Linked DNA regions of Homo sapiens: regions 1, 2, 3 and 4 are each linked to region 5. Evidence: fine-mapped QTL for protein levels in blood plasma. Region 5 holds a variant in brackets. A gene starts in each other region. All regions are shown on their reverse strands. Region 1 holds the start of PTX3 (pentraxin 3). Region 2 holds the start of ITGA5 (integrin subunit alpha 5). Region 3 holds the start of FN1 (fibronectin 1). Region 4 holds the start of NEB (nebulin). Region 5 overlaps MSR1 (macrophage scavenger receptor 1).

What was found. PIP is the chance, under the fine-mapping model, that this variant and not a neighbour inherited with it causes the effect. The UK Biobank Pharma Proteomics Project read protein levels with antibody pairs (Olink). The fine-mapping took linkage between variants from a reference panel, not from the people measured, so its PIPs are less certain.
Region 1: it holds the start of PTX3, and the variant in region 5 is fine-mapped to the plasma level of the PTX3 protein (UK Biobank, PIP above 0.99).
Region 2: ITGA5 starts here. The variant in region 5 is fine-mapped to the plasma level of the ITGA5 protein (UK Biobank, PIP above 0.99).
Region 3: FN1 starts here. The variant in region 5 is fine-mapped to the plasma level of the FN1 protein (UK Biobank, PIP above 0.99).
Region 4: it holds the start of NEB, and the variant in region 5 is fine-mapped to the plasma level of the NEB protein (UK Biobank, PIP above 0.99).

Annotation. Positions count from the first base shown.
Region 1 is chr3:157,434,489-157,439,405 of GRCh38, reverse strand. It overlaps PTX3 (pentraxin 3), which reads right to left and starts at 2,556. Exons shown (of 3, transcript NM_002852.4): 1 at 2,343-2,556; 2 at 1,492-1,893. The coding sequence starts at 2,472. The region is part of intron 4 of VEPH1 (ventricular zone expressed PH domain containing 1); the gene reads left to right.
Region 2 is chr12:54,416,541-54,421,457 of GRCh38, reverse strand. ITGA5 (integrin subunit alpha 5) reads left to right here and starts at 2,192. Exons shown (of 30, transcript NM_002205.5): 1 at 2,192-2,477. The coding sequence starts at 2,260. The region is part of intron 2 of GPR84-AS1 (GPR84, ZNF385A, ITGA5 and GTSF1 antisense RNA 1); the gene reads right to left.
Region 3 is chr2:215,434,072-215,438,071 of GRCh38, reverse strand. It overlaps FN1 (fibronectin 1), which reads left to right and starts at 2,004. Exons shown (of 46, transcript NM_212482.4): 1 at 2,004-2,417; 2 at 3,248-3,376. The coding sequence starts at 2,270. FN1-DT (FN1 divergent transcript) reads right to left here and starts at 2,381. Exons shown (of 2, transcript NR_187198.1): 1 at 1,763-2,381; 2 at 1-1,153. RefSeq lists silencers at 1,821-1,910, 1,921-1,980 and an enhancer at 3,493-4,000.
Region 4 is chr2:151,733,323-151,738,064 of GRCh38, reverse strand. It overlaps NEB (nebulin), which reads left to right and starts at 3,589. Exons shown (of 182, transcript NM_001164508.2): 1 at 3,589-3,667; 2 at 4,270-4,353.
Region 5 is chr8:16,152,809-16,157,725 of GRCh38, reverse strand. It overlaps MSR1 (macrophage scavenger receptor 1), which reads left to right. Exons shown (of 10, transcript NM_138715.3): 6 at 2,582-2,662. Among named protein-coding and RNA genes, the nearest start is that of MSR1, 37 kb to the left of the region's middle. The variant C/T (reference allele first, on the strand shown) is at 2,641.

The DNA of each region.
Region 1 (4,917 bases), not on the chromosome of region 5:
TTAGGAGCCAAGCTGGCTGGAGACCAAGAGAAGATAAATCAAAGCATATGGGTAAAAGTATTATTGGATGTAATAAGGATTAACATCTTAGAATTCAGAAATGCATCCCTCTTCTGCTCTAACTAATATGCAAAGATGAAGATAAAAAATAGAGTAATTCTTCGGTTTTTCAGGTGCATTATATGTACAATGACTTTACGTGGTTTGCGAAACACAAGACATTTCATCCATTAAAATGGCTGCAGAATTCTAATTTCTCTCCTGTCACATTGAGAATCTAGTGTACATTTGATTTTATGCTTTTTCTCCTCTGAAGCCCTATTTAGTATTTACTGACAAGCACCCCTCAAATATTTAGGAAATATGATATGGTTTCTGTAACTTTAAATGAAACATGCTCTCATTACATAAAATTCTTTAACTTTAAATGAAACATGCTTCTTCCCCCTCCCCATCCAGCAAAAGTTGTTTTCTTGGAAATACAGGGAAGGATTCTCAGGAAAAGTGCAAGTTATATTTTCTTACCTAGGACACTGATTTTCTAATACAATCCAAAATGATTGTCACACCACCATTTCTTAGAAGTTTTGGCATACAAAGGAGTATTGATTGGCTCCAAATCTTCTATTTCTTTCTTTTAACCATCTTTAGAATGTATTATTTTGGGAACCCATGTCTGTTTGGAGATTCATGGAGTGTCACATGGGACTTTGAGAAGTTGCCTGTGGTTTGAACAGTCTCTCTCCTGCTTGGCCCCAATTCTCTGAATCCCTGGGGTGGAGCTGGGATCCCCTACACGGATTGGCTCCTACACCTGACTGTTCCACGCTGAATCCCAAACCGCACACCCTCCGACCTCCCCTGTCGCGCTAATTCCACAAACCCCGGGGGCTGGGGGACCCCTGAAGAATTCCGCTGACCCTTCGGGAGATTAGCTTTAGCCTCAAGTTTCTTGCTGAGAATGGGTGGGCGGAGAGGAGGGGCCGGCTGAGGGGCTGGAAAACATCCCTAAACGTTAGCCTGGGCCCTGAAATAGTGCGGGAAACCAGAGCTCCTCTAAAGACAGAGGCAGGATAAAATTAGAAGACGTGGAAATCCCTAACGGAGGGAAGCTGGGCGGCAAGAGGGATCACGGTTATAACGGGCCAGTGGACTCCTGCAGCGCTTAGTCGGATCGGGTGTAAGGGGCCCTAGACGTCTATTTCAAGACTGTGATGGTTACCTCCACAACTCTCTTTAGGGCTCCTTAGGACTGAGGAATACTTTTTTAAAGCCAATTTTCCCGCCTTGTATGGTGTGCCTGAGCTCTGTGACCGCGCATGCAGAAATAGGGGTGTGTGTGTGTGTGTGTGTGTGTGTGTGTGTGTGCGCGCGCGCGCGCGCGCTTCCCATGAAAGCTTCCCCTAGAAGGTTGCCTGGCTTGGCTTGCCGTTACGCGCGCTCCCGGAACAAAGCCGCAGTGGGAGGTCCCGGCCCCGCTTGCCTCCTTACCTGCCGGCAGCCAGCTCCGGGCAGCCCAGCCCTGCACCGCGTGCAGGTCGGCTCGCGTCTGCCGCAGCTCCTCTAGCACCGCGGCCAGGGCGCGCCCCGCCTCCTCTGGGCGCTGCGCCTCCGCGCCCTCCATACGCGCCAGCCTGCGGCCCGCGTCGCGGGTCGCCTGCAGCAGCTCGTCCAGAGCACTGGTCAGCCTGGCCTCTGCGGGAGCCCCCGGCGCGCACGGCCTCGCCAGGCTTTCCGCGAGCCGGCCCAGCTCCTCCCGCAGCCTCTGCAGCTCGCCCCGCAGGACGTCGTCCGTGGCTTGCAGCAGCATGCGCTCTCTCATCTGCGAGTTCTCCAGCATGATGAAGAGCTTGTCCCATTCCGAGTGCTCCTGACCGCAGGCGCACGGCGTGGCTAGAGTACGGGATACACACACGTTAGCAGCCCGCCCAGGCCTGCCTTGGATGTGCTTTGTAAAAGCTGACCTCCCTCGGTGGTGCCAAGTTGCAGCCCGTTCCTGGCATTCCCCTTCCCTTTAAGGACACCTCCGAAAAACAGCATGTAAATGTCTCAGAAACGACAGAAATCATTCATTCAGGTATAGATTAAGTTGTACCCTATGAAATCGCCGGTTATGTAGCTCAAAACAGTCAAATATTGACGATTTGATATGATTCAACCCATTATGTACGTTACAGAAATAACTTTGAAACCTCCATCTTTCTTCAAGTGCTTCTCACTTTTGCATAACAAGCTATAAATTTTTAACTTGTCTCACTGGCCACAAAGTATATGTGTGTTATTTAGACCAAGAGGTGGATATGTAGTCAGGGTTAGCAGAGAAACAGTTAAAGTGAACTTACGGTCCTCAGTGGGATGGAGTCCATTGTCTATTTCGTTGTCCAAATTCACATACATGAGATCATAATCATCCGAGTTCTCGGCCAACACTGCAGACCAGAGAGCACAAAACAGAATCGCAAGGAGATGCATTGCTGGAGAGACGCAAAGTTCTTTCCACAGCTGGCGGGAGGAGACTCTCAAGTGAGCTGAGTTTGAGCGGAGGAGAGTGAGAGTGAGAGGCTGGAGCAGAGAGTCCTTAATAAATGCTGAGGAAAGCCTGAATGGGGATGAATGAGTAATGCTGGTGGCACTGCGGTAACGGGAGTTCCCCTGAATTTGGTGGGGGAGGGGGCTGGGTGGGAGAGCGAGGGAAATGTGGAAGTTGCACAATATTAAACCGCAAAGGTTTACGCTGCAGTCAGATTAATTGGAGGAGGGTCAGAGGGGAAAGAGGAGAGAAACTGGGCTTCTACTGTTCTCCTGAGAATTAGCTGTTGTAATTTGAATTGATAGCAATGGGGATGAAGGAGGGGTGGTAGGGGAGAAATTTCAGAGGGTACTGAAGCAAATCATCATTTCAGCATTTTCTGTGAGCTGTTATTATTTCACAACCCTTTATATATAGAAAACTTTCCATGTTTCCTTTGTACACTGTTTTACAGGTTGAAACTGAAAATGGTCTGATTCCAAGATAAACCAACATATTAAGAATAGTTATGGCTCTGAAAGTCAAGTCCAATCCGAGCTATCTTGTCTTTAATACTTGAGGAGTTGCACCTATACTTTTATAGATAATTTTTTTTTTTGAGACTGAATTTCGCTCTTGTTGCCCAGGCTGGAGTGCAATGGTGTGATCTCGGCTCACTGCAACCTCCGCATCCTGGGTTCAAGCGATTCTCCTACCTCAGCTTCCCAAGTAGCTGGAATTACAGGCACCCGCCACCACACCCAGTTAATTTTTGTATTTTTAGTAGAGACAGGGTTTCACCATGTTAGCCAGGCTGGTCTCGAACTCCTGACCTCAGGCGATCCACCCGCCTTCGCCTCCCAAATTGCTAGGATTACAGACGTGAGCCACCTCACCCGGCCTATGACAAACAACACAGTACAACTGGGTAAACCTAGAATGGGGAAAAAAAGCTGGGGGAAAAAAGGAATATACTTATTTAGTTATTTAGGTATGTTTCTTTTCATAACTTGGTATTATGTGGACATTATATTATTCTACAAGGTTTCGAGGCAAGGATCATGTTTTAAAAGTAAACTTAGAGATTTCTGCTTCTAACAATATATACAGGTCTGTGTTCACATGATATTAATAAAAACTTAAAAGGTACAGATGAGCTCCCATTAAAGTAAGGGGAAAATCCCGGAGCCAAAGATAGAGAGGAAAGCAAAAACAACAATCCCATGAGCTGATGCTAGGGCCCCTCTGGCATAGGAGTGAAGTGAGATAGGGGTTATTAGTTCTATAACCACCAAATGTTGATGACCATGTGGAAGCAAAGCTTAGGCCAAAGGTGGAGAGTTAGAAGGGAGATCCTCATGAAAGCCAGGACCCTCACAGGGTTACCTACTGTATTTCAGTAGGTACAATCCCACTCTGCCCTAGCACAAAGAGGTAGGAAGCAATCATGTCTCTCTTTGAACTCTACAAGGTCCCTTTGAGTTTGTGAAATTGGGCCTGCCCTCAGATATGTTTAGAATTCAAATATATACTATCTGCCACTGTGAAAACAAAAAAGAATTCACAATGATATTTGAACATATGAGGAAGCAAACCACTATAAATGAGAATCAGCAGAAACCAAAAAGGATTAGACACCTCTCCCCAAGAACTGCATTTAGTTGAAATATCAGCCAAAAAACTAGAAAATAAATATGTTTAAAACTACTGAAGCTCTAAAAGAAGGAATTGGAAATATGAGAAAAGAATAAGACATTGTCAAAAAGAAAAAGGCTAGGTGATTTTTTTTAAAGAACCAAATAAAACTTCTAGAATTAAAAAAAAAAGTTAATTGAAAATTTTAAAAGCTCAAGGCATGGATTAAGTGGCAAATTAGGCAAAGCTGAAAAGAATATTAATGAACTGGAAGACAGATATAAGGAAATAATCTAAAATGTGCTGCTTTTATGTTCAGTAATAGGATTCTAAAATCATTTCATTGTTCAGGAGGACGAAAAAGAAATTAATTAATTTTGCTTTGCTCAAAAATATTTGTTATAAGTTTAAGGACAACTACCAAATGGACATAGGCATCCGAATAGAAGGTGCAGGGGGAATTTTTAAAGAAAGACTTGATCTATGAAAAAAAAATTAATGAAGGAGGAAAGAAAAGCACAGAGAAGGATAAGTTAAAAGTACAATATTATTTGCTAAAATTAAATCAAAATATACCAATAATTACCATAAATATTAATGAAACACATTTTCCAGTTAAGAGACAAATATTTCTATTTGTCATATAGAAATATTTTAGTCGGGGCTCACGTTCAGAATCCCAGTACTTTGGGAGGCCAAAGTAGGAGGATCACTTGAAGCCAGGAGTTTGAGACCAGCCTGATCAACATAGCAAGACCCTCATCTGCACAAAA
Region 2 (4,917 bases), not on the chromosome of region 5:
AGGGATATTGGGGAGAGTAGAAAGGCCAGCCAAAGAATGACTAAGGGGCTCCCGGTGTAAACAGGAGCAGGGAATGGACAGGGAGGGGGCCTGTTTGAGTTGGCCAAGGCTAGGGGTGGAGTGGGGAGGAGGACTGGGGCAGGACGCTATGTCCCCTGTCCCCCACCAAGGCTCCTGGGAGGAGCTGAGTCACACACCTCCTTCCCTGCACCCCTCCCCACCCCCACCCCTAATCTCCCAAATCCTGGGAAAATCTAAAGAGTTTGCCTAGACTGAGAAAGGAGAGTGTTTGGTTCACACACGTGTTTTGCTGGGCTAAAAAGCAATCAGGCCTCAGCCCTTCTCCTCCCAAAGGGGGTTCCCAGCCCATGGCTTGAGTAGCTCTCACCTAAAGGTTGCCTTTTTGGCAATGCTGGGCTTAAAGATCCTGACCCAGAGATTCCCTGGGTTCCTCACCTAAGAAAGGGTCAGGACTTGCAGATGTGAGAATGGGATACGGGCCAGCATTGCCCCACAGTCTGGCCAGCCAGCCTCTCCCTTGGGCTGCAGCTGGCTCTGGAGGGGGGCTTTTAAAAAAGCAGATGGGTGATTTGGGACAGGAAGTGGAGTAGCAGAGTGAGGGGGAGAGTCATGGCAGGAAAAAAACATTGACTCTGGGCACTCTTATTCTGAGCCTTTCAGCCCGAAGTGGGGCAGGGGACTGGAGAACAGAAGGGACAGGGTTGACAGGATATTATTGACAGGGTATTATTCTGGAAAGTGAGGAGTCCTGGAGGAAAGAGACTGAAAGGACTTGTAGTCCCCTCCCCCAGACTAAGATAAAGGCTAGAATCCTGAAAAGTGATCTCATCACACAGAGCCTGAGCTTGGGGAAGAGGTGGGCAGGGGGTCACTGCCTTCCCTTTCTAGAGTCCCTTCCTCTACTTCCACAGGGGAATCTGGGAAGAATGGGGTCCTGGCTTTCCGCTCCCATTGTTTTTTTGGTTTTTGGTTTTTGGATTTTTTTTTTTTTTTTTTTTTTGGATACAGTCTTGCTCTGTCACCCAGGCTAGAGTGCAGTGGTGCAATCGCGGCTCATTGCAGTCTCTGCCTCCTGGGTTCAAGTAATTATCCTGCCTCAGCTTCCCGAGTAGCTGGGATTACAGGTGCGGACCACCACATCTGGATAATTTTTGTATTTTTAGTGGAGATGGGTTTTGCCATGTTGGCCAGGCTGGTCTTGAACTCCTGGCCTCAGGTGATCTGCTCACCTCGGCATCCCAAAGTGCTGGGATTACAGGTGTGAGCCACCGTGCCTGGCCAGAGCTCCCAGCGTTTACAGCCATTAGGAGCTGAAGGTTGGGTCCCTTTGCAAGACTTTCCACCACCACCACCACCTCTCACAATTCTCCAGGTTTGTAGGAACCCGGCCAGTTTAATCAAGCAGGTACTGAGGGGCCAGCCACTCGCAGGCTTTTGGTCAACTGTCAGATCCAAGGAAGGGGCTCAGCAGAGGTTTACATACCCTAGGACCAAGAAGGGGGCAAACTGGAGCAGAATCCTCCTGATGAATGACCCCAAACTCCTGGGTTTTCAATACTAGCAAGCTTGGAGGAGGAAGCAGCGGAACTTGAGGAGCCCGTGTAGGTCCTCTAGCAAGCTGACTGCGAACGCTGTCTCTGTACCTCAACTGTTGTGTCCCAAATCCAGCTGGCCAGAACCCAGGCACCCGGCGGCCCCGGAAGGCAAGGGGGAATCCCAGTTGGCCGGACGCCAGAGGAGTCTCCTGTCTCTTTAGACCCCAAAGTCTCCTCCCTAAAGCACTGAGGGAGACCCCACACACATATACAGGCTTCCTCCGCCCACCAGAGGTGATTCCTTTCCTCATTAGGAAATTCTCCGCTCCCTTTTCCGACTCGTTTTCCGAGCGTTTACGTTGTACATCTGGAAAGGAATGGGGAGGAAGGAGGGGGAAGCAGAGAGGAGGGGGAAGAACCCAAACCCGCCCAGTCTAACCCAGTCCAGACAACCGGCTTCCAGCTGGGGCTGGGGAAAGGGGGTTGGAGGGGTGCGCCCCCCCCCCACGCCCCTTAGGGGTGGGGGACGCGGGCTCAGAGTTCCAGGGACCCAGGAATGCCCCCCCGCCAGCCCCCTCGGCAGGCGGGGGGAGGGCTCAGCCGGGAGTTTGGCAAACTCCTCCCCGCGTTGAGTCATTCGCCTCTGGGAGGTTTAGGAAGCGGCTCCGGGTCGGTGGCCCCAGGACAGGGAAGAGCGGGCGCTATGGGGAGCCGGACGCCAGAGTCCCCTCTCCACGCCGTGCAGCTGCGCTGGGGCCCCCGGCGCCGACCCCCGCTGCTGCCGCTGCTGTTGCTGCTGCTGCCGCCGCCACCCAGGGTCGGGGGCTTCAACTTAGACGCGGAGGCCCCAGCAGTACTCTCGGGGCCCCCGGGCTCCTTCTTCGGATTCTCAGTGGAGTTTTACCGGCCGGGAACAGACGGGTGAGTGAGGAGGGCTGGAGACGGGATGGGGGTGGGGGAGCCGCCTGGAGACTGGGGGCGCGGCTGGGGTCTGGAGGGGACCAGGGCTTAAGTTTGAGGGTGGAGTTTGTAAGGAATAGAGCTGCAGTTGGGGGCCCTGGCTAGAGTTGGGGGCCCGCGCTGGAGTAGGGAGGGCACCGTGGCGGGTGAGGAGGGGCCCTGGCGTTTGAGATCAGTGGGGAGACATGTGTCCGGTGGGGAGAGGACACGGAGCTGGAGAAGTCTGGGCAGGGGTCTCCGGGCCAAGGGAGAGGAGAGCGCGTGAATGGAGAGCTGAGGGTCTCTGGCTGAAGTCTGTGGGCTGCTGGGACCTGGGGCGGGTGGGGGCGCAGAGGGGGCGCAGAGGCCGGGAAGGGCTTTTGGGGGCTCCAGGAGACCTCGGGATCCGTAGGGGCCATTGTGCGGCGAGAGAACGGGTAGAAGCCGAATGAGCTACGTGTAGTAGGAGGAAAGTCAAAGACTGAGGGGGTCGGAAGGTTAAATGGGGGCCAGCCTCATCCTCCCCTCCCCCCTCAACTCAGACCGGGGAAAGACCCGAGAGAGGACGGCGGCTCCCTCTCCTTTCTCCTCTGTCTCCTACTCCTCCCTCCGCCCCCAATCTCTGTTCAGGCGAGGGGATCCGAGAACTGGGGGCGAGTGCGGGGACCCTGGCACTGGGGCCCTGGGGCTGGGGGCGAACTCAGCCAAGGGCGGGTGCTGGGATGTGTCGGGAGGGGTGTGTGCGCGCGTGAAGGGGGGTGGGCGGTTTCCCTCTTCCTCTGGCTCTTGGGAGGAAGAGAAAAGCTGGTTTCCTGTAGCTGGTCGGCTGGAGCTGTGCTGAGACCGGGACTTCTGGGGCTGGGGTCGGAAGCTGGGGAGACGGGGGCTCCGTGGGGCCAAGAACGTCAGAATGAAGGACTCAGGACCCTGGAAATCTCAAAGGAGGATCCTTATTCCCAACTCAGCACAGTGATAAGCAGACCCGGACCCCGAGTGCCTAGAAAATGGGGTACTGACAGGCTTGGGAAACAGGAGTTAGAGTGGAAGCAACATTAGAACCAAGGGTGTCTGTTTAAATGTGGGATGGCGGGGAGATTGGGAAGCAAGAGAGGTAGGTGGTTGCTCCTGGGCTAGGCCATAGATGCCAGATTCCTGGTCCTCCACAATGACTGGTGTAATCCTTTTTCTTCTACATCTCTGAGCTGGGAGCTTCCTACTGCTCACCCCCACCCCAACCCCAGGATCTCAGGGTTTGAGGGGAATTCTGTCAGAAGCGACCTGTTTTTACACATGAGACAGTTAACTGATCTCTACTCAGTCCCTATAGTTTTTGGAGAAAAGGGGTTAATCTAGCTAATACAACTGGGGAGAAAGGCAAATTCTCCTTTGTCTGGAGGACTTGGGGATGGGAGAAAAGAAAAATGATTAGGCCCCGACTGTTGTTCTGGGCTATTCAAGGTCCCCACCCAACCCCCACCCCACCCCCCTGGCCTTTTGCCCAAACCCCATTGCATCATCACCCTGGCCTGGAGCCTCTGCCAGGCCTGGTCTCCCCCAGGTTCCCTCAAACTTCTTATCACAGCCCTAATGGAGTAGAAAAGAGGGAAGGAGGAAGGGGATGAGGTCTCCTCCCGCAGATCAGAGTATCTAGTTGTCTGGCATTTAACCTTCTCTTTACTCCCCCCTCCCCTAAATTTCCCTTTAAAACACTCCTCTAAAACATCTGGACTTCACACATTCCTGGTCCCCTAGGTGTCTGTCTGGCCCCTGGCCTGATCCTGTAGTCCCTAAAGTCCTCTTCTAAAACAGGACCTAGCTCTCTCATCCCTTCCCCCTCCCCTTCTGCTCATCTCCCCTCCCAAGAGAACCCAGGTGTCCAGCTTGCACTCCTTCCCTCTCATTTCCTATTTACAATACCCTCTTACAGTGGAACATTCTACCTCCCCAGTGACCTCCTCCCACCACAGCTAGGCCTTCACCCCCTTTCCCACAACACAAGACAAACACAGCCCCTCACCTACAGCCATTGCCAAAGAGGGAGAGCCTCAGTGTTCTTGTTCTTCCTGCATCACCTCTTGTGGTGAACACCAAAATAGTATTAAAGGACAGGGCGAGCACCAAAGCAGTTAGATGGTAGGAAAGGGCAAAGCTTTCAGTCAGACAGAGGTAGGTGTGAGTCCCCACTACTTACTAGTTTTTTGCGTGGTACCCTAGTACCTAGGGAGAGGTATTTAAGCTCTTGGAGCCTGGTCTTCCCGTGAAAATCAGACACCTGACTAACGGAGTTCTGAGGACTAAATGAGAAAACATATACAAAAGGAACCTGGTCCACAGAGAGTGATCAATACATGGGCGGCATGGTTTTTATGGGGTAGCTGTTTCTGTTTCTGGTTCTCTCCTTCCTGGCTACCGCCTAGTTCCC
Region 3 (4,000 bases), not on the chromosome of region 5:
ATCATGGTTTTGGTTGACCAAATACTTTTCTAATCACTTATTTCCTTCCCCCAGAATCAATGAATTTTAAGAAAGCTTTAGCTACAGGTTTATCTTGCTTACATCCGGATTTCCAGGTATCCTTCCCTCTGGAAGAAACACTCGGCTTCCCAGAAATTTACCAAGCATTTTACAAGGAGCTCTTTTATATTTGAAAAGAGAAAACTGTTTTGTCAAGTGATGAGAAATTCCAAAAAAATCCTCTAACCCAGACAGGATTCTAAATTTGGGGAAATCCATGGCACTCTTTCAATTTGGAGTGTGGGTCACAAAGATTCCTCAAGAGGTTTTTTTACACTATTTGTAGGAAACTGATATTTGCTGGGTGTTTTGCTTTGTTTTGGTTTGGTTTTAAATCCTTGCATGAATAAAAACAAATGCTAATTTTGTGTCTTTAATGTGTCAGGCATTTTATAGAACACAGAGTTCTAATTACTCCTGTGGCAATTACTGAAGGTGAAACTTTTGGAGAAAATAGGTACCTTGCCGAAATAAATATATTTTATTAGTAGCTTCTTGTGTTTTAAAGCAAATGGAACCTCTGAACTCCTAACACAAGGAGAAGGCAAAGCATTCAGTTCGGGTCTCTCTGGATCTACTGTGGAAGTGGTGGACTCCTCCTTCTGAAGATCTTTAAAAGCAATTGTGCCTGTGTTTATCTGACAAAAAGGACTGATGTGATGTGTTGCTAAATGAGAGACTTTTCAGATTCCCTTTCCACTCTGAGTTTAGAGTTCAAGGCGGGGGAATCTTAAAGGAGAACTTTCCACACTCTTGGAGTAAATAACAATTGAAATATAAAAAATCTGGCGGCGGGGGATGGAGGGGGCATTCTGTAATGGAACTTGTCAGCAAAAAGAAAATGGCAAATAAATGTGAGAAAGGGGCCGAAGGAGGGCAAGACAGTACATAGGGTGCCCCCCACCCACCCGGCTTTTAATGATTCAAGCAAAAAAATCTCTGCTTTGTGTGTAACTGGCACGGTGAACGTGGGAAAGGACACGAAGACCTTTCTCTCCCCACAGCTGGTCCAACTTTCCAATTTTCAGGTTGTTCACAGTGATTTCACTTTCAGTGGAAACGGGCGTCCCATCCCCAGGAAAGGAAGGCTTTCCTGCATGTGTAAAAAAGTAAACTGTTACTTTGTCCTTGCAAAAGAAAACTTCATTCTCTGAACTTCCCCGGGATCTGCAAAGCGCCCCGCGGAACTCCCGGTACTTAGTAGAAGCTCATTAAAGGTCTCTGTTCCCCTTTGCTCCCCGTTCGCCCGCTGGCCCTTTCTCAGAGCCAGACAGGCACAGCGCTGAGAAGGGAAGAAGTCCGAACAGGGAGCTGTGAAGACAAAATAAGGGAGTCCCGAGTCAGTACCCTTTAGTCCAAAGAAAGGGAGCGGGATGGGGGGAAAGGCAGCCCCGCCCTGGGACTGAAAAGTCTGGATTCTTAACAGCTGCAAGGTCGTGGATATTTTATGGGTTTTCTTCCTCACAAAATACACTCCTATAAGCAGAGATTCCCCCCCTCCACCCCGAAGAGAGGTGACGCAATGTCCTCAAACACTACCACCACCCCCAATAAAAAAGAAAAGGGAAGGGGGAGCGTCTTGCAACCCCTTCGCTTCACACAAGTCCAGCCACTCCCTTTCCTCCCAGCCGCTTCCCATCCCTTCCCCCATCCCCTAAAAAGTTTGATGACCGCAAAGGAAACCGAAAAAAAGTTGTCTTGCCCCAGTCCTGGCGGGCCATCAGCATCTCTTTTGTTCGCTGCGAACCCACAGTCCCCCGTGACGTCACCCGGAGCCCGGGCCAATCGGCGCGCGGTCGGCTGCGGCGGCCGGCGGGCGGGCGGGCGGGTGGGGTGGGGCGGGGCGGGGACAGCCCGGCGGGTCTCTCCTCCCCCGCGCCCCGGGCCTCCAGAGGGGCGGGAGGGGACCGTCCCATATAAGCCCCGGCTCCCGGCGCTCGGACGCCCGCGCCGGCTGTGCTGCACAGGGGGAGGAGAGGGAACCCCAGGCGCGAGCGGGAAGAGGGGACCTGCAGCCACAACTTCTCTGGTCCTCTGCATCCCTTCTGTCCCTCCACCCGTCCCCTTCCCCACCCTCTGGCCCCCACCTTCTTGGAGGCGACAACCCCCGGGAGGCATTAGAAGGGATTTTTCCCGCAGGTTGCGAAGGGAAGCAAACTTGGTGGCAACTTGCCTCCCGGTGCGGGCGTCTCTCCCCCACCGTCTCAACATGCTTAGGGGTCCGGGGCCCGGGCTGCTGCTGCTGGCCGTCCAGTGCCTGGGGACAGCGGTGCCCTCCACGGGAGCCTCGAAGAGCAAGAGGCAGGCTCAGCAAATGGTTCAGCCCCAGTCCCCGGTGGCTGTCAGTCAAAGCAAGCGTGAGTACTGACCGCGGGCTGAAACAGGCTGCCTCAGGGATGGGACCCTAAAGCCGACCAAAGTTGGGGCTGAAGTTTTGTGCGCGCGCGTGTGTGCGAGTGTGTGCGCGCTTTACTGAGAGAAACCAGCTGTGCACACAAAAGGACCGAGTTTTGAGCACGCTGGTTCTGAGGGCCTGGGATGATAAGACCGTGCATTGGAGGACGAGGACTCTGCGACTTTCCCGTGTTCTAATAAATTCTGCACGTTCAGATTGTCCTTCTAGGAATTAACCAAAACTTGCCTTTAAAGAGAAAAATGATGCATGTCTATAAATTTTCCGTCTGGGATTAGTGTGGTCCTTACTGCTACTTATTTCCTTCTGTTAAATAATTGGTCAAATATTTTCAACATGGGGGTGGAAAGGGGGTATTGAAATAGCTGTCTTGTTTCTAACTAACTTGGAAGAGATGTAATTGGTTCAGACCTCTTTAGGGCCGCTCAGGATACTTCACCAAGAACAGAGGTTGGAATTCTTTCCGTTTTTCAAAGACACACCCTCCTTTTGCTTTGAGAAAGCTGCTTAAAGTTGTCCTTTTTGACTATTACTCCAAAAGAATATTTAAGTTCCTTGCATGTTTTAAAAATGTGACTTCAATTGTCTGCCTTCCAAAATGTTTCCAACTTTTTTATGTAGACCCCTGGCCAGATGGAAATGACATCATTGTATATAACTTTTAGCAAAGTTAAAAGGAAAAAAATATGTACGTCAATATTCACATGAAGAAAATTCCATAATTTTGGGAAAAGGAGAAATGCAAATGTAACGTTTTCCTTCAATTATTTGCAGCCGGTTGTTATGACAATGGAAAACACTATCAGATAAATCAACAGTGGGAGCGGACCTACCTAGGCAATGCGTTGGTTTGTACTTGTTATGGAGGAAGCCGAGGTTTTAACTGCGAGAGTAAACCTGAAGGTAAGTGACAACAAGCCCCATAGTTAGTATCTTTTAATACATGAAGTGGTAATTGTTAAACTTTGCATTAGTAAGTAAAAATACATACACCATTTTTCTAATAGAATTACCTGTCATTTCCTCTTAAGTTTAAAAACTGCTTATATTTGCTTTTCACATGCTTTTACCTTTAAAACAAAGAAACGAATCTTTCCCAAATTAGTTCCTAGAGTCTTCTTTTTGCTTTACTCTCCCAAAGTTTTTGATGAGAAAAATGAAAGATTTTGTGTGTCCTCCGACAAAAAAAATTGCTTATAAAATTTTAATTTATTAGAAAGCAGTCTCAAATCTTAAACTGTTAGTTTATGAGCCAGAAAACACTTTGGGGACTTACATCGTAAAATGATTTGTCAGCGGCAGTTAACACAAAACCATTAGCCACTTCAAAGTTCTCATTCCTTTAGGACCAATGATATTTTTCTCATAAATTATAGCAACTCTGTCAGAGAAGCACTGATCAGGGGAAAATGGAAATCATAGGATTAACAACTGTCAAGGCCTTGTGGGAGGTGGGGATCTTCGAATTGTTTGTTTGTTTTTGTTTTGTTTTGTTTTTGAGACAGAGTCTTGCTCTGTCACCAGGCT
Region 4 (4,742 bases), not on the chromosome of region 5:
GGGTTCAGCTGTGAATAGCCTTTTGCTAATCATAAAAATGTAAACATTGAGTTCTGAATTATATGTGTAGAACTTTATTGAGGTGCAGGAGGTGAGGCTTGTGGTTTAGATGAAAGAGAATTAAAGCCTCATCTTCCCGGATAGGAGCTTAATAAATGATGCCTATGAATGAAAAATCAGGAAGGAGCAATGTAGACATTTTGTTAAATGTGTAAAGGAATATAACAAAAGATTCAGCTAAATGAGTCCAAGTGATGTCTCCAGGGAGGGGAAAAAGGAATAGAGGAAACAGGAAATGTTGATTTAGTAGCAAGTCTTATGAAACTTAAGCTTGATTCTTAAGCTATGTTCATATAGAGGTTGATCAAAATACTGAAATCAAAGTAATGACAACAAAAACTGTTACAATCCCATCTCCCCTTATCATGTCTTTTTTGGTCTCCAGGCATGACACTTCTATATTTTCATATTTAGGGAAGCCTTATCTGAAGTTCCGATATTGGCACCTAACTGCCCTGCTTTGGTTTGTAGCCAGTTGTACAAGCTTCTAGTCAGATGCCTGCGTACTCATAAATTCTTAGACTAACTATTGTCTGATTTTAGAAGCTTCAAGATATTTGGTATTTCAGTTAAATACAGAATAAAGCGTGAAGCTTCCAATATAATGTAAAAAATGATAATAGTAAAAATAATAATAGCTAACATTTACTGAACACTTACCATGTGCAAGGCATATAATAAGAACCTACCAATAAATCAGGGTGCCAATGTACTGTCGTTCCACAGAAGAGGTCATAGATAGGCCAGGAAAATAAAGCTGTTCTTTCATCTCTAGAGGGCATCATTCCAGATTAGAATCTGCAGAATTTAGTAAGGAGGTGGCAGTGTTTTTCTCTAGTGTGACTAGGAGGTAAATATAAGCTGCTTGCTGGTTCACTCACCCCTGTGTAACCATGGTAGGAATATAACCAGCTCTCCTGTGAGTCTCTTACTTCTGATGGCTTTGCAAATTATTAGGGCAACCTGCAGCAGGCCAGTTTAGCAGGGGCTTTGGGGCTTTCTTTTAGGAGGAATTTATCCCAAGAGATCTAAGCCAGGGTAATTTCATGTGAACTCACTCTTGCCCCACCCCCCACCCTAACTTTTTAGATGCACACTTCATTATGAATGGAGTTTGAGGTTCTGCTCATCTGTAGCACTTCTATTTACTATCATAGTGGTTTCAAAAGTAATGTATAAAGAGTGTCTTAGTCCATTTGGTCTGCTATAACAGAAATAATATAAGCTGGATGGCTTATAAACAGAAATTTACTTCTCATAGTTCTAGAGGCTGGATGTCTAAGATCAGGGTGCTGGCATGGTTGGGTTCTAGTGAGGACTTTCTTTCAGGTTGTGGCTGGCCATCATCCCCCTGTAACTTCACATGGCAGAGAGAGTGCCAGGCAGCTCTCTGGGGCCTCTTTCATAAGTGTACTAATCCCATTCGTGAGGGCTCCACCCTTATGACCCAATCACTTTCCACACATCGGGGGGTAGGACTTCAACATATAAATTTTGGGGGGACACATTCAGCTCAGATAGTAATGATTTTTCAGTCTAATAATCCCTAAGGATATTGAGATGTGTATACATAGGAACCCTCATTCTCTGTTAGTGAAACATAAAATAGTGTAAGGATTTTGACTGGCAACTTGACAATATCTATCAATTTTCAAAATGTGCATATATCTTCTGCCTCAGTATTTCTATTTCTAGAAATTTACCTTACAGATACATTTCATATAAGTATACAAAGGTAATGTACAGGGATGCTTACTGTGTGTTTTGTTTCGCATTGTTTTGCTTTATTTTGTAATAGCAAAAACCTCGAAACAACCTAGATGTCCATTAATAATGATTAAACTATTATACTCTATCCAATCAATAGAATTATTTGTGGAAATTAGAGTAGGATATGTTTATGTGATGTTTCATAAAAATGTCTATTGCATATTAAGTATATCGATTTATGTCAATATCTATATTGAAAATATCTGAAACTTAAAAATGACTAAGAAGGTCAATGCTCATTTTTTACTTTATATAATTTTGTACTCTATGTTTTTAAAGTATGGGCCTGTATTATTTTTTAATTCAACAACACATTTTAAAGCATGTAATGACTAGTAAGTCACAATTCTAGTTTGCAGCTACCAAGTGAGTGATCTCATATTACATAAATATCCTTTGGTCATAAGACCTGTGAGAACATACAAGATGAACAGGTATAATCAGTTAAGATGATAAAATTCTGTTAGATTTTATTTACTACCATGTGAATCATGGAGGGGGAAAAGGTACATGTATTTGAAATATGAGATTACTTTCTCAAACTCCTGGCCTCAGACAATCTGCCCGCCTCGGCCTCCCAAAGTGTTGGGATTACAGGCGTGAGCCACCACGCCCAGCGAGATTACTTTCTAATGTTTAACTTAAAAAAGAAAAAATATTACAATATGTTTAATCTCAAATCCATATCAAGATATAGGTGACTCACAGGGTTTTGCCTGAATACAGGAGCAACCCAGAGAAAGAGCAGTTCTCTGTCACATAAGAGCCTGTGATTTCTGTCGCTGTGTGTAAGGACAGACAGACAGACAGATAGAATTAGATTTTAAATTAGAAAAAATACTTCAGGAGCAAAGAAAGTGCAAGAAAGACATCAGGCAAGTTTTAAGAAAATGGTTAGATAATTTTTATGAAGGAAATGTCTTACGTTCGGATTTGCCAAATAGGGCATTATTTTCTCCTGATAAGTTACTGATTTCCATGTTATCTGCTCTTGCTGTTCAGAAATTGAGCCTGTTTGTGTCCGCATTCACACGTTGCTTCTGGGAGCCAGGAGTCATCTGAGTTAATAGAAAAATCACTAACTCGGTTACATATGAGAGAGGTTCTGTATTCCTAGCAGCTTGCCTTATCTAAGGAGGGAGAAGGTGCTAAATAGGATTTTGGTATACCCTCTTGGTTTAGTAACAGAAAAATGATGGGGTCTAATCTTTCTAATTACACCCTGTGGATATCTTATTTAGTGCCATTGTCAAATATTTTCACCTTTAACTTCACTCATCACATTTTTAAAAATTGCTTTTGTCAACTTGATGTTTACTGGGTCTTATTCCTCAGTTTCTTTCACACTAGCACCAGTAACTTACCTGTAGCTCACCTGGTGAACCTTACCAGAGTGAGTACATTTACCACCATGACTGGACAAATGACATGAAGAAAGCAGTCACGGAAGGGTTAAAGCCTCTCAAAGTCATGCTTATTTTCTACTAAATTCTTTTGCATGAATATGACATTGAATGGGGCCTCAGTAAATGGGAAATTCAACCTAAAATTGAACTGCACAGGCTGGAAGTTAGGTAAAATTTGATTCCATTTGAATTGTTCTAAGCAAGCAATTTGTTACCCTTTATCCTTTAGTGGAATTGATGAACAGGTGGTTTTCAGAAGATCACTTGGTAAATTTAGCTTCTGAAATTTGAGCAACTCAAGATCTGATTGGTTGCTCTTGCCACATGATAATTCGGAGCCCAGGCATCACGCTGGCTTTTGCCTGGGGTTCTCAGGAGGGGAGAGTTGGGAGAGGCTTTGCTGCTGAGGAAATTTATTTGGTAGATTGAAGGTAAGGCCAGTTTATGACTTTTTCTGTAATACTCTTTCAGGAGATGCTCCACAACTTCCCTCGAAGTATTTTTCAAAGGTTTGGGCCATAACTGAGGAAATTAGTGGTAGAAATATGGCTAGGAGAGTTTAACCCCATTGCCCTACTAAGGCCCTACTAATATCTGCTATGTACCGTGTGTGATTAGAGTCAAGTCCTTTGCTAACCAATTTATTGCTTGACTGAATTGGCTCTCTTGTCTAACATTTTTTTGCCTTTGATATTTTTCTCTAAATATATTAGTGTGAAAAAGAAGATACGCTGCTCTACGTTCCTATATTTATCCTGTTCTACTGGGCTTCATTTGCCTGAGGAGTGGCAGTTTCGCTAGCTTAACAAAACCAGCCACTGCAGGGTATTGGTTTACATGGCAAACATCTTTGGATGAAGGGACAGCTGTTCCAACTCATCATCCACTTCATATCAAGAGTCTTACTCTCTGGCGTCAAACTGTAGAGGCCTTGAGAGATCCTTTCGCTGTTTTCTGCATTAGAAGCTTAGGCTAAGGACTGACAATCCTATATGTACCTCAATCAATGCTTTACAACTTTGTTATTTTTCAGGTTTGAACGAGAGCTACAGAAACGAAAGAAAAAGTCTGTATAAGCCAATGGTGTTCGGGAAGAAAATAACCCCATTGCCTTGAGGTTTCTTTTTTTCTTTTAAAATTTATTGACAGATGTATTTTTATGGGTTCCAATTTGAAGCCTAAGATATATTGCAAACAGTGGATCAGGGCAGTATGGAAAACTAAGTCAGCCCTCTTAGAATTTTGGTGCTGGGGGATAAATTTCAGCTTCTTCTGAAACCCAAGCTGACCTTTCACTAAAATTTTTGCTGGAAAATGTCTTTTCTCTAAGTGTTTGGAAGTTTAAATTCTCTGTTCCCTGAGTCCAAACTCTCTCACTTCCTTACCTCAATTTCGTTTTACAATTTTAACTAAACTGATTATGTAGAAGTAGCAATTCCCAACACTGAAGGAATAAAGAGAAAGAAATTTGAAGCTTCTGCTGTTTATACTTGTATTTTAAATGTC
Region 5 (4,917 bases):
AAGGTAGTGGATAGTGTTCTTAAAAGTTCTGCATCAGAAACTAAGAGTAAAGTGGTATATAATTTGTTATTTTATTCCCCCAATGAATCTAAAAGACACTTAAAACATTTATTGAGATCCTTCCAACATTTTGTTAGAAACAGTAAAAGATCTATAACAATGTACAAAAATGAAACATAATGTGAGATTAATGTTACATGAAGAATAGAATGACAATAAAAAGGTACATTCAACATGCCTAGTTAGAACTCTAACAAAAATCTTTACCTGTTTTTCTTATTGTAGGATTCGAATACCAGGTATCAGTATTTTTATATAAAAATACAGAGAGGGATCTTTAACTCCAAATTTTGTAAAATAATACTGATCTATTCGCTGTGATTGAACTAATACTCCAAAATTAAGTATACAGTTCCCATAATTACATGTAATATAATTGAAAGGATAGTTAGTAATTAGGAGAGTTCCTTCCATCTCTTACTTACCAAAGAAATGGTGAGAAGTCCATCTCAGAGGCTAAGAGTCTAGATCTATTCTCTGTGTCCCTTGTTTCTTCTTGTTTCATGTTCTAGTTTTTCCTGGAATGTCTGCGTCTTGCTTTGGATCCTGAGTTACTAAACTGAAATCTTTGCTTGCGCACTTTTTTCAAAATACCATCCTTGATTACTATCCCTGTGCTTCCCTTCAATTAGCTCAACAAAATTCAGGCATAAATTGAGTGTCTGTCCTGCTTGCCCCCCTCCCCTGGGATTCATTGCTATGTAGTGTTGAATGGATGCAGCTGCGTTCATGGTTATGGAAGTTACCATAACTCCATTTTCTTGGGAAGTACTACATTCTTCTGCAGGGAATAGGGGGCACATAGAGATTCCCTTTGATACAGAAATCTTACATTTCTTGTGCAGCATTTAAATATATGTCTCGCAGCAATTAAGCTATACCTTAGAATATAATACACCAGTTAATTTCTAAAAGCCCTGTAACATGTTGTTTGCATGACGATTATGTGGAAAAAAAAAATACACGTACACACTTAGGAAAGAAATGGTAAAGATCTTTAGTTAAAATAACACAACTACGAATTATATTCTTCCTCACGCTTTTTCTAGGCTTTTATGTTTCCTATAAGTAGAGTTGCTTTTATAATAAAAATACAATTAAATGTGTGTCCAATGTTGCATATGAGGAGAAAGGGACATTCTATTGAGAAGAGTAATAATGATATCTTGGGCCTCTAAAACCCAAATTGTACCTTGAAAATGGGACATACCAGAGGAATAGACAGAAGTAGAGTCAAGGATGTCAAAATAAGCAACAACAAAATGTACAAAATATACTTATTCATGAGATAATCTTTATTTATTTATGTGGTTCCCCCTCTTAGATTTCTTCGGGTATTATGTCTCCCACCTGATTAAAATTTGTAAACAAGTGCATTCTAACCAGGGATGCTGTATATATTTGTTTTCCTTGGACTATGTATGTGTCCAAACTAGCAATTGAAAATGCTTCCTTTAAAATATCACTATTTCCTTATTCTGTGGTGAATCTATGGAATAATGTTTCTTTCTGTTTCTTTCTTCTGGTGTTGAAAAGGAAACTAAGTGCTCTTCTTTAGATAAAGAAGAGATTATTTGTCCTCTGTACTCCATATGGAACATGGTGTTTAGGTAGGATTACCTTTGAGTTCTAAAGACATGCTAGGTATAATCATTTTAAAGGCATGATGAGCAGGTATCTGTTTTGCTGGACACAGAAAATACAAATGGCTAAATCAGGGTTGTTTAGTTACAGCTCTCAGGAGAGCCACCTGAAAAAAAATGATGAGACCAAAGTTTTCCTTGCAATGTCTCCATTTTGTTTACAGTATTTATAGCAACCTAGAAATTCTACTTAATATTTTACTTGAAAAAAGAATTCCTCTACTCATTTTCACCTTCCTGCCTTTCCTCATGCCTTTCTCAATCCCTAGGAATTGTCTTCCTTCCCCTTCCCTTCATTCTTGAAAGTACCCCTCATATCCTACTTTCTCAATGAAGACTTCAACCATCACCATTCACGCCGATCTACAGTTCACTGACAAATATCTGAGTTTATGGTCAGTTCCAACAAAGTGCTTTCTGGTTGTCTACCATGTGTGAATTTTCCTTTCCCTTGAGGGTATCACAAATGTCTTTTAAGTTCTTACTTATAGATTTTCCGTATAGTAGCTAATTCTGTATTATATCTAACTCTATGTCTAACTGCCTAGGATGCGTACAACACTAATGTGACTTTGTGCCAGCCTGCTGTCTTTTCTCTGCCCCCAGGTTCTCAGAACATAGAAAAGTGTTAGGCACACTCACATTTAATATACTGTTAGGTTGTTTACTTTGAGGCAATGTCATCCTCATTAGTATAGGGCATTATATTCCTGAATAGCAGAATACTCCTCCATTCATGAAGTTCAGTATTATACATTCTATATTATTGCACAACAAATAGAAGACTTTGGATTTCCTTATATAAGTACCTTGACAGATGACTAACCCATTTTTCCTATGCTTTACAACTATGATCAGTAACTGTAATTTTTTTAAAGGTCCTCCTGGACCCCCGGGTGAAAAAGGAGATCGAGGTCCCACTGGAGAAAGTGGTCCA[C/T]GAGGATTTCCAGGTCCAATAGGTATGGTAATTTTAGCTATTTAATCATATACTGTGAAGATAGATGATATACATCCAGGTACATGTGTAGGGGAGGATTGCTATTTTATTTATATCCTGCAGAGGATGTGTATGTGTGTGTGTGTGTGTATGCACGCACATGTGTGTATATGTGTGTGTGTTTTGGGGGATTAGTAAATGTTCTAGTAGCCTAATCACATAATACACTGAATGATAAGCATTACTCATGACTGTTGAAGAAAATAAATGCTTTAACCAGAGTAACCAAATGGAATTGTTTGTAAGTCTAGATAGTGACATGTATATAATAGACAGCAAACAGTATAAGGCAGACCTAACCGTAGATCATATGTGAAGGGGAGTACAACAATTATCTTTGCGTTGAATAAATCATCTTCACATTTGCAAGCTATCTCATTTTTAAGACATAAAAACTCACACTAGTAGTGAGTTATGAATCACAAGCAAATTGGACTATATTTCTTATATAGTATTTGGAATATATCTGTTTAAACTAATGAAATCTGAATGTAAATATTGGCTAAAATATGGATGACACTTACCTTGCTGACAGTCACTCTCTGTGCTTTACTAAGAGCAAAACTGTTTCAAATTATTTTCCTCTAAGTTGTAATCTTGAAAGAAATATTTTGAAAGAAGACACAGAAGAGAGAACATGAACTTTCTTTGCTTGAAAAAATAAAAAAGATAATAACATGATTGTCATGTTAGCCTTGGCTTGAAATCAAATATCCTGCATGCCGTTTGATGGTAGGAAGTATACTGCAAGGTCTAATTATAAGTAGAATGGTTTGTGTTACCAAAACATGTCTAAATACCATGTACTTCATCTTATTTTTCTGTCTTTTGATTATATAAAAGGTTCTTCTTTCTGATCAGTGTATTGACTAGCCCTGGTCACATCAGAAAAATTTTTGAAAATGAGAAGCATGAACTTGATACCTGCCTAAGCACATATATGTATATATATGTATATAAATATATATGGCATATTATATGTGAAGATAGATGATATACATCCAGGTACACATGTTTTATATATATAAAATAGCAATCCTACCCATATATATAATATGCCAAGTCAGGTGGTATTAGTATTGATGTGCTTTTGAATGCCTTGCCAGGAAAGAATTTTTATTCAGGAAAGTCTTTCTACTTGACTAATGCTAATCAGATATTAACAATGCTGCATTAATGTCATAAGCAGAGGAAATAACCAGTATTAAATCTGCTGCCAGAACTACCATTGTCAAGGGTCTATCACCCCCTCCATACAGGCTGCAATTGTCAGAGCTTTATAACTCAACCATAAAAATTCAGTCTGGGCTACATCTTGCCATACAGTGCTTCATCTTGGGAGAATCTTCTGCAGCTGTTTCTGAACTGTGAATGTATGAAATAGAAGGATTTATAAATTTCAGCTTGTGTTAATGTTATAAATAGACACCATTGCAAAGAATCTTTGATTTTGTTTTTTTTTTATTGTAAATTAACGATTTGTCATGGTTTAAATTTACAGGGTAAAAAGTGATGTCATAATTTGTTGCTTTTGGTACTGCTCATTTACACAAATAGGCATTACCCAGTTCCTCATAAAAGACAGGTCGAGTTCCTGGGGTAATCAATGACTCTTCTAGGTTATCAGGTTACCATTTTGTTTGGTGCACTACAAGAAAAGTATTCAAAATACCAGGCATCTTTCCTAATGAATTATTTCTGGATGTCTTGCTGCATTCTGTTCGTTTCTCCACCAGATTGTCTAATTGCCTTATATTTGATGCCGAAATCAGGAAGCAAAGAGTATATGATGGACAATCATACTAATTCTGCTTTCTAATCTGAGCAGGTTTATTGCTTCCCCATCTCTACATCCATTTGAGCCTACTAAACTCAGCTTGACCAAGTCAAACTCACCTAGACTCACAATCATGATGCGAATATCTGCAAAACCTAAGTGGTTGTCCTAGTAGCCTCAAATAACTAATACATTAAATATAGTAGAATTATTATTCATATACTAGGGTGGATATTATGTTTAAATATGCTTTATTCCCCAAATAATAACAAATTTATTTTAGAGGGCTATTTCCTTGAAAGCATGCTAGGGAGAATGACCTATCACTTTTCACTCAAAAACTATGTGCTGAGCACTTTCTCCAGGCCTGGTGTTCTACAATACCCTATAGAGTATGTGTAAACAGATACAGAATCTCTGAATTCACAGCGCTTCCAGGA